Linked DNA regions of Homo sapiens: region 2 is linked to region 1. Evidence: fine-mapped expression QTL. Tissue or cell type: coronary artery. Region 1 holds a variant in brackets; the other region holds the start of a gene. All regions are shown on one strand. Distances are between the middles of the regions.

Region 1 (8,181 bases):
TTCTTTTTTTTTTTTTTTTGAGATGGAATCTCACTCTGTTGCCCAGGCTGGGTACAGTAGCATGATCTCGGCTCACTGCAACCTCTGCCTCCAGGGTTCAAGTGATTCTCCTGCCTCAGCCTCCTGAGTAGCTGGGGTTACAGGTGCGTGCCACCATGCCCAGCTAATTTTTGTATTTTTAGTAGAGATGGGGTTTCACCATGTTGGTCAAGCTGGTCTTGAACTCCTGACCTTGTGATCCGCTCGCCTTGGCCTCCCAAGGCATCATTTTTTTTTAAAAAAAAAAAGCTCCCCAGGTGATCCTAATGTACAGGGAAGTCTGACAACCACTATTCTAGAAGAACAATGCTTCTCAAACTTTAATGGACATATGAATCACCCGAGGACCTTGTTAAAATAGAGCTTCTGACTAGTCGGTCTAGGATGAGGTTTGAGAGTCTGCAGGTCCATCCAGCTCCCAGGTGATGCTCATGCTGCCTGCCCATGGACACATTCTCACTCAGGCTTTAGAAGACACCAATGAAATAAGGAATGTGGTCTGCAGTTATTGACTGCTGTTACCGGAAGGATATCCTTTTTTTTTTTTCTCCTTTTCTCCAGATACTTTCATACAAGGAAAAAATAAAGAATTTTCAAAAGTGGTTTTCCTTACTCTTTTATAGTTTCTAATGACTTTCAGGTATGAAAAAGAAATCCCACAATCTTGCTAACACTATTGTGTTAGTTTTACATGGGAAAAAAAGCCTCGTTCAAATAAATGAAAGGAAGGAAGTGCTTCAGAAAGGATGCCACATAGGATAAAAATGAGGATTCAAGTCAGGAACAGAAACATAGGCTATAGGAGATTATAGGCTAATTTTATGAGCAGTCAGACCATGGATAACAAGGGATCTCCTATTAACACCTCCATCTGCTAACAGTCACTCTAGAGCTGCAGGAAGCTATAATGCATAGTGAACAAGAGGCTGGAAAAACATGTCATCTGAATTCAGGGCTGATTCTAAGGGCCAGGGAGTTCAAGTAAAAAGACACATCACTGGGGTAAGAAAAGAGAAAGTGATTCTGGTGGCAAGGTAGAGTCATGGTTAAGAGATTTTCCAAACAAATAAATGGATCCGAATTTTATTGTACTTTCAGGTTTAAAAGTATTGGAAATGCATTCTGGAGGACAAAACTTTGACATTTCCACATATTTCTGTCCTGTTGTTCCTACAAACACTCTCTGGTTTACAGGAACAACAAGAAAGAATATTTGAAATTGGAACTTCTATACAAAATGCAGGTTATTTATTCATTTTATAGTAAGGGGTTGATGGGATGGGAGGGAACAAAATATGGAATAATACTAGTACAACCTAACTGAGAAGTCTATCCACAAAAGGTACTATGACCTTTAAACTGGATTTTCAATGGCTAACTTACTCAGAGATATATTTTATCTCAAACTAAATACTTCTTAAAGAACACAATGCCAGTTATACAAGGACATTAGACAAACATTTATGCTATATAATGAACTTGCTACCTGGTTATCAGGGCTACTGATAAACACAGTTGCTGGGTATTCTGAAGGGAGAATACGAGGTCTATACGCAGCATTCCTAAGTTCAACATGGGCGTTCATCTCTTACCAGCTTCTTTCTGCAGATTCCTTTCTATGTTAGACACACAGGATGCACAGGTCATGCCTTTGATCTGTAAGAAGCACTTCTGCGGTGCCACTGCTCTGGTTGATTGTGGGGACTTTGCCAAGATGTCCGGGGCATGGTTTGCAGGGAGCCTCCCAGTGTGGGGAGCCACTTCCTGCACAGATGTAGGTGTACCATCTGTAGTTTGCACCATGGAATTCCCAGCACTGTGGTTTCCAAGAGGGTTAGTAGAACAGCTTTCTAGGATAAAATGTCAGAAAATATTCAAATTAGAAGAGCAAATAATATGTTTTTCAGAACAAGAGGTTTCAGGGCTCTTGGTGAGGGTTCATTGTCCCGGCTCCCACCGAGCAGCCTCAGCCCCTGGGCTCCAGTAACTACCTTGTCCCTCAGCCATCCTGGAGGACAGAGCTCCCTGCTGTTGTTAATCTCTGGGGTTCTTCCCATTGCCTATTTGGATTTCCAGCTCTCTAATACCTTTGTAAATAGTTCTCTATATTAAATCCTTCCACTGAGCTACCCCGTAACTTCACCTTATCTTTCATTTCCTTCAGGAATACTTACTGCATGCGGGGTGCTATTGAGTCCAAGGAGAAACAAATCACGCTGGCCGCAAGGCTGTCCTCAAGGAGCTCCTAATCAATCAAGAAGGGCTCTTCAAATACAAACTGGCACACTAATGGTTTATTCCAAATTAAAGTTGCCAGGTAAAATACAGGACATCCAGTTAAATTTGATTCTCAGACAAACAACAAATAATTTTTACTATACATATGTCATGAATATTGAGCTGGACATGTTTATACTAAAAAACCATTCATTGTTTATGAAAAATTAAAATTTAAGTAGATGTCCTATATTTTTATTTGCTAAGTCTGATACCCTAAATACCTCTTCGGCTAAATAAAATTCTCATAATCCTGCCCAATTAAAAAAATCACTATTCTTTTCTTTCTAGGTTTATTTAATCAAATCCAATTATTCTGTAATATGTAAGTTCAGTGCTAATTTCTTTTTACCACTAATAACCTGATTGCACGGTTGAAAGACTTTAAACATCACACAAAAACAGGCAGATGTTTACCTTATACTATATTTCTTACCTATTGCGTACAGGATTTACTGTTCTATTGTGTTTTCCTTATTGATTTTTGTTTTAAAGAAACTCCTTCCTGAAACTTGATACAAAAGACAAAGCACAAAATGGGGCCAGGCCACTCCACATGAATGCCCACTCCCTTCAGCAGTAGGTGTGTGCTGTGGGCACAGAGGGGAGGCAGCAAAGACTCACAGCTGAGTGAACTTTTCAAGGACACAAACTTTATCTCAGTGACCACAGGAAATGATGTGGGAAACCAAAGTTCAGCCATCCCTGAGCACTGAGCTGCCAGTGGGCTTGCCCACGCCACTGAAAGCAGCTCTTCTTAGTGTTGGGCCCGCTGCTCCCTACAGTACCGAGCTCCAGCCAAAAGGCTGAGGAAGCCAGCCATGTCCTGGTCCAGTCCACAGAGACACGCACGGGCAGGGCCCATGTCTGGGACCTAATCGGTTACAACACACCACCCACACAGCTGCCCCTCACAACATGTGCCCCTTCCCTCCTTATCTTCAGCATTTCTCTCAACCATCTCCACTCACCTATCATCCTCTTTATCCCTAATCTAAGCTACTAGTGGTCTCCACCCTTACCAGCAGCCAAGCTGGGCTCCCACCTTCCCAGGGTCCTGAAGCAGCTGCCGAGGCCTCCAATGGCCTCCCCTAGTTAACCCGCGAAGATACGATTCAGACCTTGGCCTCTGCGGCTCGCATTATGTCCAGGGTGACTAGGAGACCCCTCCTCCTCCCTCTAATTCTTTCCCATCTCACAATCACTCTTTCTAGGTCTCTGTCATCTTCCCACA[C/CTCAAT]TCTGCATTTCCGGCCCCACACTCTCCCTCAAAATTCAAGGCCCTTCTATCCCACTGTCCTCCAGCATCTCAGCTAAAGGCTCATCCCAGTTACCCCTTTCCTCCATGGCCCTCCCCATCACACACCCCTCTTGGTGACCCCAAGCTTGGTGGAGCTGCCCTCCTGAATGTCTTTCAAACCCACCTCTTTCTCACCCGGCCTCCTACGTGGTCTCATTGCCTCCATGGACACTGTACTGTGACACCACACCAGTCTTCTAAAATATAATCTGACTTCGTGCTTCCTCTGATTAAAACCCATGATGGTGGCTGAGCATAGTGGCTCACGCCTGCAATCCCAGCACTTTGGGAGGCTGAGGCGGGAGGATTGCTAGAGGCCAAGAGTTCAAGACCAGCCTGGGAAACACAGCAACACTCCGTCTCTACAAAAAAATAAAAATAAAAAATGAGCCCGGTGTGGTGGTGCACACCTGTAGTCCCAGCTACTCAGGAGGCTGAGGTGCGAGGATCACCTGAGCCCAAAGGTTCAAGGATGCAGTGACCTATGATCATGTCACTATCCTCCATCTTGGACAACAGGGCAAGACCGTGTCCCTAAAAAAATTAAAAAATTTTTTAATTAAAAAATATAAAAGCCTGGTGGCTCCCTCACCTTTACCTCTTCTCTTATATTCATCAAACAGGGAGAAAAAAATCATTTATAAATCCTTTCCTTAACTCTCATTTTTACCAGCATGGTCTCTAGGTGATGAGACTAAGGTTCTGTTGTTTAGCAGTAAAATCTTTTGAGAAGGTGATAATAGTTCTCTTGGTAAGAAAAGGGCCTGGATGGTCCCACAGTGCTCTATTTCAGGATACAGAATCAGAATTCTCTCCAGAAAAGAAGCCCAAATCCAAGGAGGTTCGCATTCAAGTCAGCCATGGTTTGACTGTGTCCCCCAAATTTCATGTGTTGGAAACATAATCCCCAATGTGGCAGTGTTAAAAGGTGAGGGCTTTAAGAAGTGACTGGATCATGAGGGTTCTACCCTCATGAATGGAATCCACTCATGGATTAATGGGTTATCACAGGTGTGGCATCGAGGCTTTCTAAAAAGAGGAAGAGCCACCTAAGCAACCACGTGAGCATGCTCAGCACCCCTGCCATGTGATGCCCTGTGGCACCGGAGTCCCCACTGGCAGAAGGCTCTCACCAGATGTGGCCCTCAACCTTAGACTTCTCAGTAACTATAAGAAACAAATTCCATATCTTTATAAATTACCCAAATTCAGCCATTCTGTTATAAGCAACACAAAACAGACTAATACAAAATCCCAACTACATGAAAAGCAAAATCTAGACACTTGGAGATTATATTTCCTCTATCTTAACAAATTTAACATGCAAGGAAAGTTTGCAGGATTTTGTTCCACTGTTGACATGGGAGGCAGGGAGCAGGGCTCACCTATACCACCATCCAGGAGCTATAAGACACAAAGAGAAAAGGAGACAAGCTCAGGACATGCCTCAAACACACTACGTACCAGAAACGACTGAAGCCTCAAATCCCATGTCTTCTATAGCAGCTCTGAGTTCTTCTGGGCTAATTACAGAGGGATTATAAAGAACTGTTGCAGTCCCTTCGGCCAAAGACACCGATATTTGCTGCACCCCTTCCAGTTGGGAGATCATGCCTTCAATGGAATGGACACAGGATGCACAGGTCATGCCGGCAATGGCAATCAGAGTGGTACTGCATGTGCCCTGGACCTGGTTTCTCGGTGGGGAGCCAGGGGAATGAGAACTGGAAGACCTGTGATCTGTCCCACTCCCTTCGGCTCCATCAGGAAGAGAAACTTTAAAATTCCCAGGTGGAAGTGCCTCGATAGCCCTCTGCAGAGCCACTGGGCTGGTACAAGAAGGGTCATACTTTACTTGGGCAGTTTTGTTCTCCAAGGACACTTGAATACTTTGAACCCCTAGGAGCTGGCCAATATTTTCTTCAATATTCAAGACGCAAGACTTACAATGCATTCCATCTATTCTCAGTTGGAGGGTGACCACATGGCTTCCTTGGTGCCCCAAGGTCTCAGAATTATTAAAATTCTGGTTAGCAGAAGATAAAGGTCTCTTTGGGTTAGTGCTTTGTAACCGCTCAATATCAATTGGTCCCAGGCTTAAGGGAGCCACTTTGCTCTTGATGGCAGCTTCAAATCCCATGTCATTTACATGGTCCCTGAGGTCTTCGGGCTGAATGAGATAAGGCTGATAAGTGATGACGGCCTCTTGGTTGCTGAGTGAGACTTTGACTCTCACTACTCCTTGCAGTTTCCGGACCTTGCCTTCAATGGAGCTGACACAGGACTGGCAGGTCATGCCCTCCACCCGGAGCTTGACCACAGCCTCCTGGGCAGGCAAGGACCTTGAGGGCCAGGAGGCTGCCTTTCCTTCTGCAATGCTGGCCTCGAAGCCCATGTCCCCAATTTGATGGCAAACCTGTTGCAGGCACACAACCGATGGCACATATTTCACAGTGGCACTGCCTTGTTCCAGGGAAACCTTCATGCTGATGATGCCTTTCAAATTGGAAATCCTGTCCTCAATGGACTTCACACATGACTGGCAAGTCATGCCCAAGATCCTGACTGTGCTGGTGGCCACCTGAGAAGAAGGGCCCAGGCCATCCAGACCACCTTCATAGCCAACATTGTCAAAAGCAAAACTCTTCTTCATTGCTGGTTCCCAGGCACGGGTAGGCAAAGAAAGCTTAGATAAGATCTAAAAAGAAAAGAAATAACATTTTTTAACCTTGAAACCAAATATTTTCTACAACATCCCAGCTTCTCTGGCACTGAGAAAATGGAAAACAATGCCACTGGTGTCAAAATATCCCAAGGGTAGAAGAACATAACATACACAGAAAGCAAGCTAAAGGCAGCATCTACAAAATGAAAGAGCTCTGACATTCTTCTCTGACAGAAGCTAACTGTCTGTCCTCCTTAGTGAAATGTCGTTCTCACACAACAGACGTGGAGGATTCTGAGGGAAAGAAGGAAAGCACGACACAGCTTTACATATGGAATGCAGCACGGCTGGCCTGCAGCAGAGGCAGAGGGCACAGCGGCTCACGGTGGGAAGGCACAGGTATCCCAAAAGAGGTCCCCACCTCTGGCTGATACCTCCCCACAGAACTTAGTCCTTTCAGCTCAAACTTTGGGGGTCCTGCTGAAATACAAACCCCAGAATAGTCAACACCTTACTTCTATATCTCTTTCTAGGGGTGTCTGTCTGATTATCTTAGCAGAGGTTAAATGTGCTTAACACCCTTCAGGTACACGCTCCAAATGCAGACTTCCCAGGACCATAGGGTCGGAATCCAAAGGTGGGCCACATGCCTGTGAAAAAGCTTTGGAGGTATGCTCCCTGGGCGAGGTTTAATGAGCACCTGTGGCTGAGCCGAGGGGCGGGAGGGGAAAGGCTGGAAGAACAGAAAGTTGAGTTTCACAAGGAATTTCATAGTTCTGCCTGTGACTCAGTGTCACCGCCCTCCTGGGTGTTCAGGAGAGCTGTAGTCATTACCTGAAATTTCAGGTACATCACTTAATTAAAGAACCTGTTTTCTTAACACAACACAGTACAAGTGTTATTCCCTGGTTTCTACACAGGATGATGTAGTCTCAGTCATTCTATTAACAAGCAAAATCTTCCTTTCACAGGCTCCCAGCCTACAGCTGTCTTAACTAGATATACTTTTTACACCAGAACTTCCATGTGCTTCAGAAATTTGGGAACAGGCCTTTATACATGATACATCATAAAAAAGCACATTTCTCTCTACTTGTACACAATCCTGCTTGTCTTCAGATGAATCTCCTTTACATGGAATGATCTTCTCCTTTTTCCTGTGCATAAAATGCAGACCTTGCCAACCGGCTTTTGAGCAGCTTAACAACACAAATGTTTAAATAACTTGTAAAATGCAGACTATATAAATGTTGATTTCTATATCCACAAAGGTTTGGGATTAATAATTACATAGAATTTTAAATATTCACTGTAGCATTTCCTAAGAGAAAAAAGGGAATAATTAAGTAATTTGGGGGACAGCAGTTCAAAAGATATTGCTGAATCCAGTAAATACATGAATGTTTAATGATGTTAAGGATGGTGATACATTCTGAGAAATGAGTCATCATTGTGACTTCATCGTTGTGTGACCATCATAGAGTCACTTACACACACCTAGCTGATGTAGCCTACCAAACACCTGAGCTGTATGGTGTAGCCTGTTGCTCCTAGGCCACACACCTGTACAGCATGTTACTGTACTGAATACTGTAGGCAATTGTAACACAATGGTAAGTACTTGTGTATCTAAACATATCTGAACATAGAAAAGGTACAGTAAAAACACAATATAAAAGATTAAAAAATGGTGCACCTGTATGGGGCACTTATCATGAATGGAGCTTGCAGGACTGGAAGTTGCTCTGGGTGAGTCGGTGAATGAGTGTTGAGTAGATGTGAAGACTTAGGACACTGCACTACTGTCGATTTTATAAACACTGTAAACTTAGGCTACACTAAATTTATAAAAAATAGTTTTATTTCTTCAACAATAAATCAACATAGCCAGACAGTGGCTCATTGT
Region 2 (8,181 bases), 40 kb after region 1:
CGACAGGCACACACCATTATGCCCAGCTAATTTTTCTTTTTTTTTTGTATAAACGATGTCTTGATATGCTGCCAGGCTGGTCTTGAACTCCTGGACCCAAACTGCTTTATTTTCTTCATAGTACTTACTAGTACCTGAAATAAAGCTATTGAAGGAAACTAAAACATTTCACCTCAAAACAGACTTATTGGAAATATTTTGAGATGGCCGTTCAGAGGGCCTACAGACAAAAGTAGTCCTACTGTGAGGGAGATGAGCATCTGTTGAGAACCTCCATTGACGCAGCCAGTTTTTCTCAGAGGGCCCTTCCTTGTCTGGATCTGGGTGAGATTAGCTGAATTTGGCACCTTCAAGGTCTGAAACATTTCTTCTCCCTGAGGGCTGCTACCTGTGAGGTTTCATCTACATAAGACCACCTTTGCTAGCCAGGTCTCCTCTTCTCTCCCTCCTATAACCTGATTTACAACCATAACCTGTTTTTGGCCAAGCTTAGAGCCCCCACACTTTCTGTAACCTCAGGATAGTATAATTGTGGCAACCACCTTGCCTTCCTTTGAGATCTTATGTTGTAAGACTCTCACGGCACGTTAGTAAATGTGTATGCCTTCTCTCCTATTAATCTGCCATTTGTCAGTTGATTTTTCAGTGACGCTTCACGGGGCACAAAAGTTTTCCCTTAACTCCTACGCTATACATTTGTTTATCCCTTTTTTTTTCCTATCTCCAACTAGGATGTAAATTCATGAGGGCAAGGTCTCGGTCCTACCTAAATCCCCAGTGTCTAAAACTTTGAGTACTATGTGTTTGAGCACATAGTACACACAAAAAAATTTGTTGAATAAATGTTGATAACAAGATATAATACCTACATCAAAGGGTTTTTGTGAGGATTAAACGCGAGAGTGCACATAGAGGGATATGAGTGCCTAACACAATGCCCAGCACACAGTAAGCTCAATAACGCTGGTCAACGCTATTATCAGAGGATTCCAGAAGACAGGTCAACATGGGCAGGAGCAGTTACAGAACGTTTCAAGGAGGTGGCAGGTCTTGAGCTTGATTTGGAAGGATAATGATTTCTTTCTCTAGGTGGGGACACTGTAGGAAGTTGAAATCTCCTCTGTACAAGCCACCCCTCCCAACATTTCTTCATACTCCTATCAAATGCATAGTCATCATACCCTACAAACCACCTACTAACCAGCCTCTCTCTGTCTGTCCACTAATCCGTTAGTTTTCATTTCTGTATCACCGGAGCCTAGATGAATTCACTACTAAAGGGCACCCAGCAACGTCAGTGAATTAGTTTCAGAAATCTGTGGAAAAGAAACAGCCTACTGTTCTGTCCAGCAATCCAGGCCTAAGTATCTATCCTAAAGAAATAGTGTCAGCATTAAAAATCATGTACAAAGATGTTCACTTGCAAGAGAGAGAGAAAAAAAGTAGCAAACAGAACGTCCACCACTAGGAAACCATGAATAAACTATGATGCGTCCAAACTGTGCAGAGGTTGCACTGAATTAGACAGTTAGTGAAACAATCTCTAAGATATATCGTTAAACTGAAAAAAGAGAATGCACATACAGTGATCTCATTTAGGTAAAACAAAAATTTTAACACCTCATACAAATGAAACCTAAAGATTTCTCTGAATGTGTGCATATTACATATAGATACATGTCTTGTTAACCACTGTATCAACTCAACACTGTGTGCCTGAAACATAGAAAGTTCTCAATAAATATTTGCCGAATGAAGACATATGTACGTGAATAGAAAAAGACTGAAAAATAGATCTGCTTTTTGTGCAAAATATTTCTGTGCTGTTTCCATTTTTAAAAGACTGTCTTAATGTATTACTTGTACAATTAAAATGAATTTAAAACAGTTATAAAAGTTCCAGGACCTCGATATACCATATCTGGTCCAAGCACCAGGCTCTGAGTAACTTCTCCAGGTAACTAACTTCATCGTTTTGAGCCATTAGGGCTCTAGCACAGCAACTCGACGCTCACTTTATCTCTCCAGCATCAGACCCCTTAAAAGCATAAAGATGAATTTTGAGGTGCGGGGTTTTCCATTGCTCCCAAACATCAGTTGACGGCACACTTTTTCTAAAGGGTCCTTTTCTCCCACGCCAAGACATCCCTGGAGCTGGGGTCTGGCTCGGCCTTCCCTGCGCACCCCCTGGGGGCGAGTAAGCGCCGAACGCGGGGAGGAAAATCCTCCTGGTGGGAGTGAGCACGCTGCGCGGACGCGGGGGAACAAAACTCACTTTCCGACTGGCCCCTTCTCTGGCTGTGATCTGTCTCTCCTGCTCAGGCATCGTCCCGCACGGACACCGAATTCTTCTCTGATCTGGCTCAGAGCAAAAGGTCACCTGGTCGGTGGAGGAGAGCGGGGTGTTAAAGTCCCGGGAGAGGAGGCGCAGAGTGTGAGGGCATCGGCGCGGCTCGGCTCTAAAGCAAACAGGGGTCCGGGAACCGCCCCTTCATTTGGGACCGGGGAAGCCGCAGCCCTCTTCACACGGATGATTCAAAGTTGCGCGCCGCCGTCCTCCCGACCTGGGGGCACGGGGATGAGAGCGTGAGGGGAGAGTGGGCCTCGGACCCTCGCCCACTCCCCAGGTGGCTGGGAGTGCCCACCCTGGAACTGCCGGCCCCGCCGGTGCCACAGTGTTCTCTGCCGTGCCAGTGCCACAATGTCCTCTGCCGTGCCGGCGCCGCAGGGCGGAGGCCTGTCCTCCTCCGCGGTCTCGGCCACCTCGCGCTGGTGCGCTCCGACACTGTACTGGGATCTCACGCGTGTGCGGGAGCGGGAGGGCAGGTGAGCTGCGCAGAGCCGGGCCGCAGACTCAGCTCCCAGGGCTCACCCACCGCCTGCGGGGAAGGTGCCCGGCGGCGCCGCGTCGGGTCCGCTCTGCGCTGCCCCCTCCTCGGACTCTGCGCCTGGCTGCCGGACGCCGTGGGTCCCAAAGGAAGCAACCGCGGCAAGAGTGAACTCCGCACCTGGAAAATCGATCCGCTGTGCGCAAAGGCCAGCCAATGGCCTCCAACGGGCGGCGGGCTTTGGGCCGGGAACGGGGGCGCAGGCGCCCAGGCGGGGGCTTCTAGTGGGGGAGGTGGCCGAGGGAGGGAGCGACGGCTGTCAATCACAGGCCACGCCCTCCTCAGCCCAACCCCCCACTGCTGTCCCGCCCACGGGGGCGGGAGCCGTGTGCGCCACGCCGAACACTAGTCTACGCCTCGGCATATTCTATTGGCTGGAAGGCCGTGGGAAGCGGCTACCAGTAACCAATAGTAACGCACAATTGGCCCGTGGGGGCGGGGCGAGCACGGCTTGCTTTCTCAGGAGCCAATAGGGAAAAGGAAAGTGAAGCGTTTCCTGAGTTCGGGGGTCGGCGGAAGATGGCGGCCGGCGAAAGGAGCTGGTGCCTGTGCAAGTTGTTGAGGTGAGCAGCCGGTCGTGTGGGCTCACAGACGTTTTCTCTTCTGTAGGGGTACTTGCCCGTCCAGTGTAGCTAAATTTTGCGGGCAAATGGCCTTCCTTGTCATGAATCTAAGGTAATTTCTCAGGCCAATGAGCAGTCTTTCTTTTTCTTGGGGGTCTTCTATATAGACTGGAATAGACTAGGTCTTAAAGACTCAATTTACCGCGTTTTCTTCTGCTTCACTGTTGGCCGAGGGGTCGAGTTCCCTTCCCTGCTTCAGCTTTTTTTTTCCCTTTCACACTCCAGTTAGTCTGTCATAAATTATTCATATTCATTCCTTATTTTTCTTTACGATTGAGCCACGAGACATTTTCCAATCTATCATGTCTCTTTTCGGTAAAGAAGAAACCGGATCTTCCTTCTCATCTTAGTTTCTACTCTTAAACTCACCAAAACTGCCATTGTTAACACGTCACTTAAATATAAAGCTTATGTTGAATCCTCTGCTTTTTGATAATCTGTTACTTTAATTTTTATGATGTAAGAAGTTACATAAAATATTATTTTATTTGTATTACGTGTATATGCTGTTTCTTCTAGAAAAATTAGAAAATAGATAAGTAAAAGGAAAAAACCCCAGGAATGCTACCATCCGGAGATAGCCACTGTTAACATTTTGGTGAAAAAACTCCCAGGCTTTTTTCCACCTTTGTTGTTGTAGTACTACTGTATTTTAAATGCCTTGCCCTCCACTAATAAAACAGAAGGCCTAGTATATTCTACCTACCTAGTTTTTTTACCACCTACATATTTTTGTTCAGGCTGAAAATTTATAATTAACACCATAGCTTCCTGAATAGCAGTATATACCTAATTCTTTCAAAAGTTCAGGCATTTCTTCTTCGTTTTTGTCCACTCTACTTCAAATTCTGTAATCATTACTTTAAACATTTTGAATGAGAAAGTCTGTTATCAGAGCCTTTTGGTTCTTCCCTGTCATACGTAATATTCCTCAGTGCTTTACATTATAATGTTTAAATAAACTCACTAACCAGACTTAAAGGACAGGTTTAACTTTAGTTATTATGCAGCTTTTAAGTTAAATGTTTAATAGTTCAGTTTGAAAAGCTTGTCACATGAATTTTCCCACCTAAATTATTTGAAGGAATTGCCAGAAAAACCTTTACATTATATGGGTCAGCTGCATTTTAAATAAGCTTTTGAAAGAGTGTCCTGAGAAAGCAAACTGTCCTCTGTAGTGTTGCTTTTATGAATTCATATATTCCAAATGTTAAATAAATGATAAATCTTACCACTTTTGTCAGACTCTGTTCATCCTTTAAGGCAGTGGTTCTCAAATTGTGCTCCATGGACCATGCAGGTCCCAAGGCCCTTCAATGGATCCTCAACAAATCTGTTTTTATAATAACATTAATGTAATATTTGCCTATTTTACTATGTTGATAAGTGCAAAAGTGATAGCGGATAAAACTAAGTGATAGTGGATTTTAATTAACAGTGTGAAAAGGTCATTGATAGGGTTTCAGAGTCTGTATTGCAACTGACATTAAGAAACTGCATAACTTGTCAAATGTGGTCTAGCATCAGAGAAGAATATCTGTAACTAGCTGAAAAGTTAAATATATTTTAAACATAAGATCAATATATATTAAAATATACTCCCTTTTCCTACTACATGTCTAAGTTAGCCTGAATTTTCTTCATATACTTCAACAAAAACAACATATCACTAGATTGAATGCAGAAACAGAAAGGAGGAGCCACTATCTGGTTTCACGTTAAGCCAGACATTAAAAAGATTTGCAAAAAGTGTAAATCATTGGCACCCTTCTTGCTAAATTTCTTTTTTTGGTTTGGAAAAGATAGTTTTTTAATAAAAATATGTTAATGTGTTATGAAAGAATTTTTATTTTCAAATGAATTCATAAAAAGTTTAAAGTTCTTTAGTTTTCATTTCTAATATGCTAAATATTGGTAGATATAAGCAGTGTAAACCACTGGTTCTCAACCAGGGGTGATTTTTGCCCTTCGCAAGACATTTGGCATTTGGCAATATCTGGAGGGCTTTTTTTTTTTAATTTTTTTTTTAGAGATAAGAGTCTTGCTCTGTTGCCCAGGCTGGAGTGCAGTGGCATGATCATAGCTTACTACAGCCTTGAACTCCTGGGCTCAAGCAATCCTCCCACCTCAGCCTCCCAAAATGTTGGGATTACAGGCATGAGCCACCATGCCCAACTGATAATTTTGATTGGGAGGGTGCTACTGGCATCTAAGTGGGTCAAGACCAAAGATGCTACTAAATATAATACATAGGACAACCTCCGCAACAAATAATTATTTGGTCCAAAATGTCAGTAGTGTCAAGGATGAGAAACTCTGATGTAAACAAAAGCTCTATTGTATCCTCAGTAAAATTTTTAAGAGTATAAAGGTGTATAAAGAATATAAAGACCAAATTATTTTAGACCAATTATTTCAGCTTTGAAATAAAGTGCTCATGTGGGATTTCAAATAGAGTCAAATACCTCTTCAAGTACACAGTAGGAAATCCCACATGAGATTTGTTCACAATAGGAACAAATGAGGATTTGTTCACAATAGGAAATCCCACATGAGAACTTTATGTCAAAACTAAATATCAATAAAATATTTACTTCTGGCCAGGTGCAGCAGCTCATGCCTGTAATCTCAATGCTTTGGAAGGCCAAGGCAGGAGGATTACTTGAGGCCAAGAGTTTGAGACCAGCCTGGGCAACATAGCAAAACCCTATTTCTACAAAAAACATTTTTTTAATTAGCTGGGTGTGGTGGCATGCACCTGTAGTTCCAGCTTCTCAGGAGTCTGAGGCAGGAGGATCGCTTGAGCCAAGGAGTTTGGGGCTGCAGTGATTGCTATGATTGCACCACTGCACTTCAGCCTGGGTGACAGAGTGAGACCCTGTATCTAAAAAAAGCAAAATTTACTTTTCTGATGAATTTGTATGTTTTCATGTGGGCAGTGAAAACTATGTGATATGGTTTGGCCGTGACCCCACCCAAACCTCAAGTTGAATTTTATCTCCCAGAATGCCCACATGTTGTGGGAGGGATCCAGGGGGAGGTAATTGAATCATGGGGGCCAATCTTTCCCATGCTATTCTCGTGATAGTGAGTAAGTTCACGAGATCTGATGGGGTTTATCAGGGGTTTCTGCTTTTGCTTCTTTCTGATTTTTCTCTTGCTGCCACCATGTAAGAAGTGCCTTATGCCTCCCGCCATGATTCTGAGGCCTCATAGCCATGTGGAACTGTAAATCCAATTAAACCTATTTTTGTTCCCAGTTTCGAGTATGTCTTTATCAGCAGCGTGAAAATGAACTTGGTACCATAAATTAGTACCAGTAGAGTGGGGTGCTGCTGAAGAGATACCCAAAAATGTGGAAGCGACTTTGGAACTGGGCAACAGGCAGAGGCTGGAACAGTTTGGAGGGCTCAGAAGAAGCCAGGAAAATGTGGGAAAGTTTGGAACATCCTAGAGACTTGTTGAATGGCTTTGAACAAAATGCGGATAGTGATATGGACAACGAAATCCAGGCTGAGGTGGTCTCAGATGGAGATGAAGAACTTGTTGGGAACTGGAGAAAGGTGACTCCTCTTATGTTTTAGCAAAGGTACTAGAGGCATTTTGCCCCTGCCCTAGAGATTTGTGGAACTTTGAACTTGAAAGAGATGATTTAGGGTATCTGGTGTAAGAAATTTCTAAGCAGCAAAGAATTCAAGAAGTGACTTGGGTGCTCTTAAAAGCATTCCATTTTAAAAGCGGAACAGAGCATAAAAGTTCAGAAAATTTGCAGCCTGACAATGCAGTAGAAAAGAAAGACCCATTTTTTTAGGAGAAATTCAAGCTGGCTGCAGAAATTTTCAAAAGTAGCAAGGAGCCTAATGTTAATCCTGAAGACCATGGGGGAAAATGTCTCCAGGCAATGTCGGAGACCTTCATGGCAGCCTCTCTCATGGCAGGCCTGGAGGCCCAGGAGGAAAAAGTGGTTTTGTGGGCCAGGTGCAGGGGCCCTGTGCTGTGTGCAGCCTAGGGACTTGGTACCCTGTGTCCCAGCTGCTCCAGCCGTGGCTGAAAGGGGCCAATGCAGAGCTAGTGCTGTGGCTTCAGAGGGTGAAAGCCCCAAGCCATGGTAGCTTCACATGGTGTTGAGCCTGCGGGTGCACAGAAGTCAAGAATGGAAATTTGGGAACCTCTACCTAGATTGCAGAAGATGTATAGAAACGCCTGGATGCCCAGGCAAAAGTTTGCCACCGGGGCAGGGCCCTCATGGAGAACCTCTGCCAGGGCAGTGCAGAAGGGAAATGTGGGGTTGGAGCCCCCACACAGAGTCCCTACTGGGGCACTGCCTAGTGGAGCTGCGAGAAGAGGGCCACCGTCCTCCATACCCCAGAGTGGTAGATCCACTGACAGCTTGCACCGTGTGCCTGGAAAAACCTCAGACACTCAACGCCGGCCCATGAAAGCAGCCAGGAGGGAGGCTGTACCCTGCAAATCTACAGGGGCAGAGCTGCTCAAGACCATGGGAACCCACCTCTTGCTTAAGCATGACCTGGATGTGAGACCTGGAGTCAAAGGAGGTCATTTTGGAGCTTTAAAAATTTGACTGCCCCACTGGATTTTGGACTTGCATGGGCCCTGTAACCCCCTTGTTTTGGCCAATTTCTCCCATTTGGAACAGCTGTACTTACCCA

Which allele goes with the higher level. Alleles are on the strand shown, and positions count from the first base shown. SD is a standard deviation of normalised expression in the study named.
With allele C in place of CTCAAT in region 1, the expression in coronary artery of the gene that starts at base 3,387 in region 2 is higher (small effect, 0.23 SD a copy in GTEx).

The links. PIP is the estimated chance that this variant, and not a neighbour inherited with it, causes the effect.
Region 2: ALG11 starts here. The variant in region 1 is fine-mapped to the expression of ALG11 in coronary artery (GTEx, PIP 0.91).

The regions. Positions count from the first base shown.
Region 1 is chr13:51,968,861-51,977,041 of GRCh38, forward strand. ATP7B (ATPase copper transporting beta) reads right to left here. Exons shown (of 21, transcript NM_000053.4): 2 at 5,075-6,308; 3 at 1,632-1,889. Among named protein-coding and RNA genes, the nearest start is that of ATP7B, 38 kb to the right of the region's middle. The variant C/CTCAAT (reference allele first, on the strand shown) is at 3,551.
Region 2 is chr13:52,009,012-52,017,192 of GRCh38, forward strand. ALG11 (ALG11 alpha-1,2-mannosyltransferase) reads left to right here and starts at 3,387. Exons shown (of 4, transcript NM_001004127.3): 1 at 3,387-3,451. The coding sequence starts at 3,408. ATP7B (ATPase copper transporting beta) reads right to left here and starts at 2,439. Exons shown (of 21, transcript NM_000053.4): 1 at 2,276-2,439. The coding sequence starts at 2,326. RefSeq lists silencers at 2,646-2,985, 3,036-3,145, 3,156-3,255 and enhancers at 3,376-3,505, 3,556-3,645.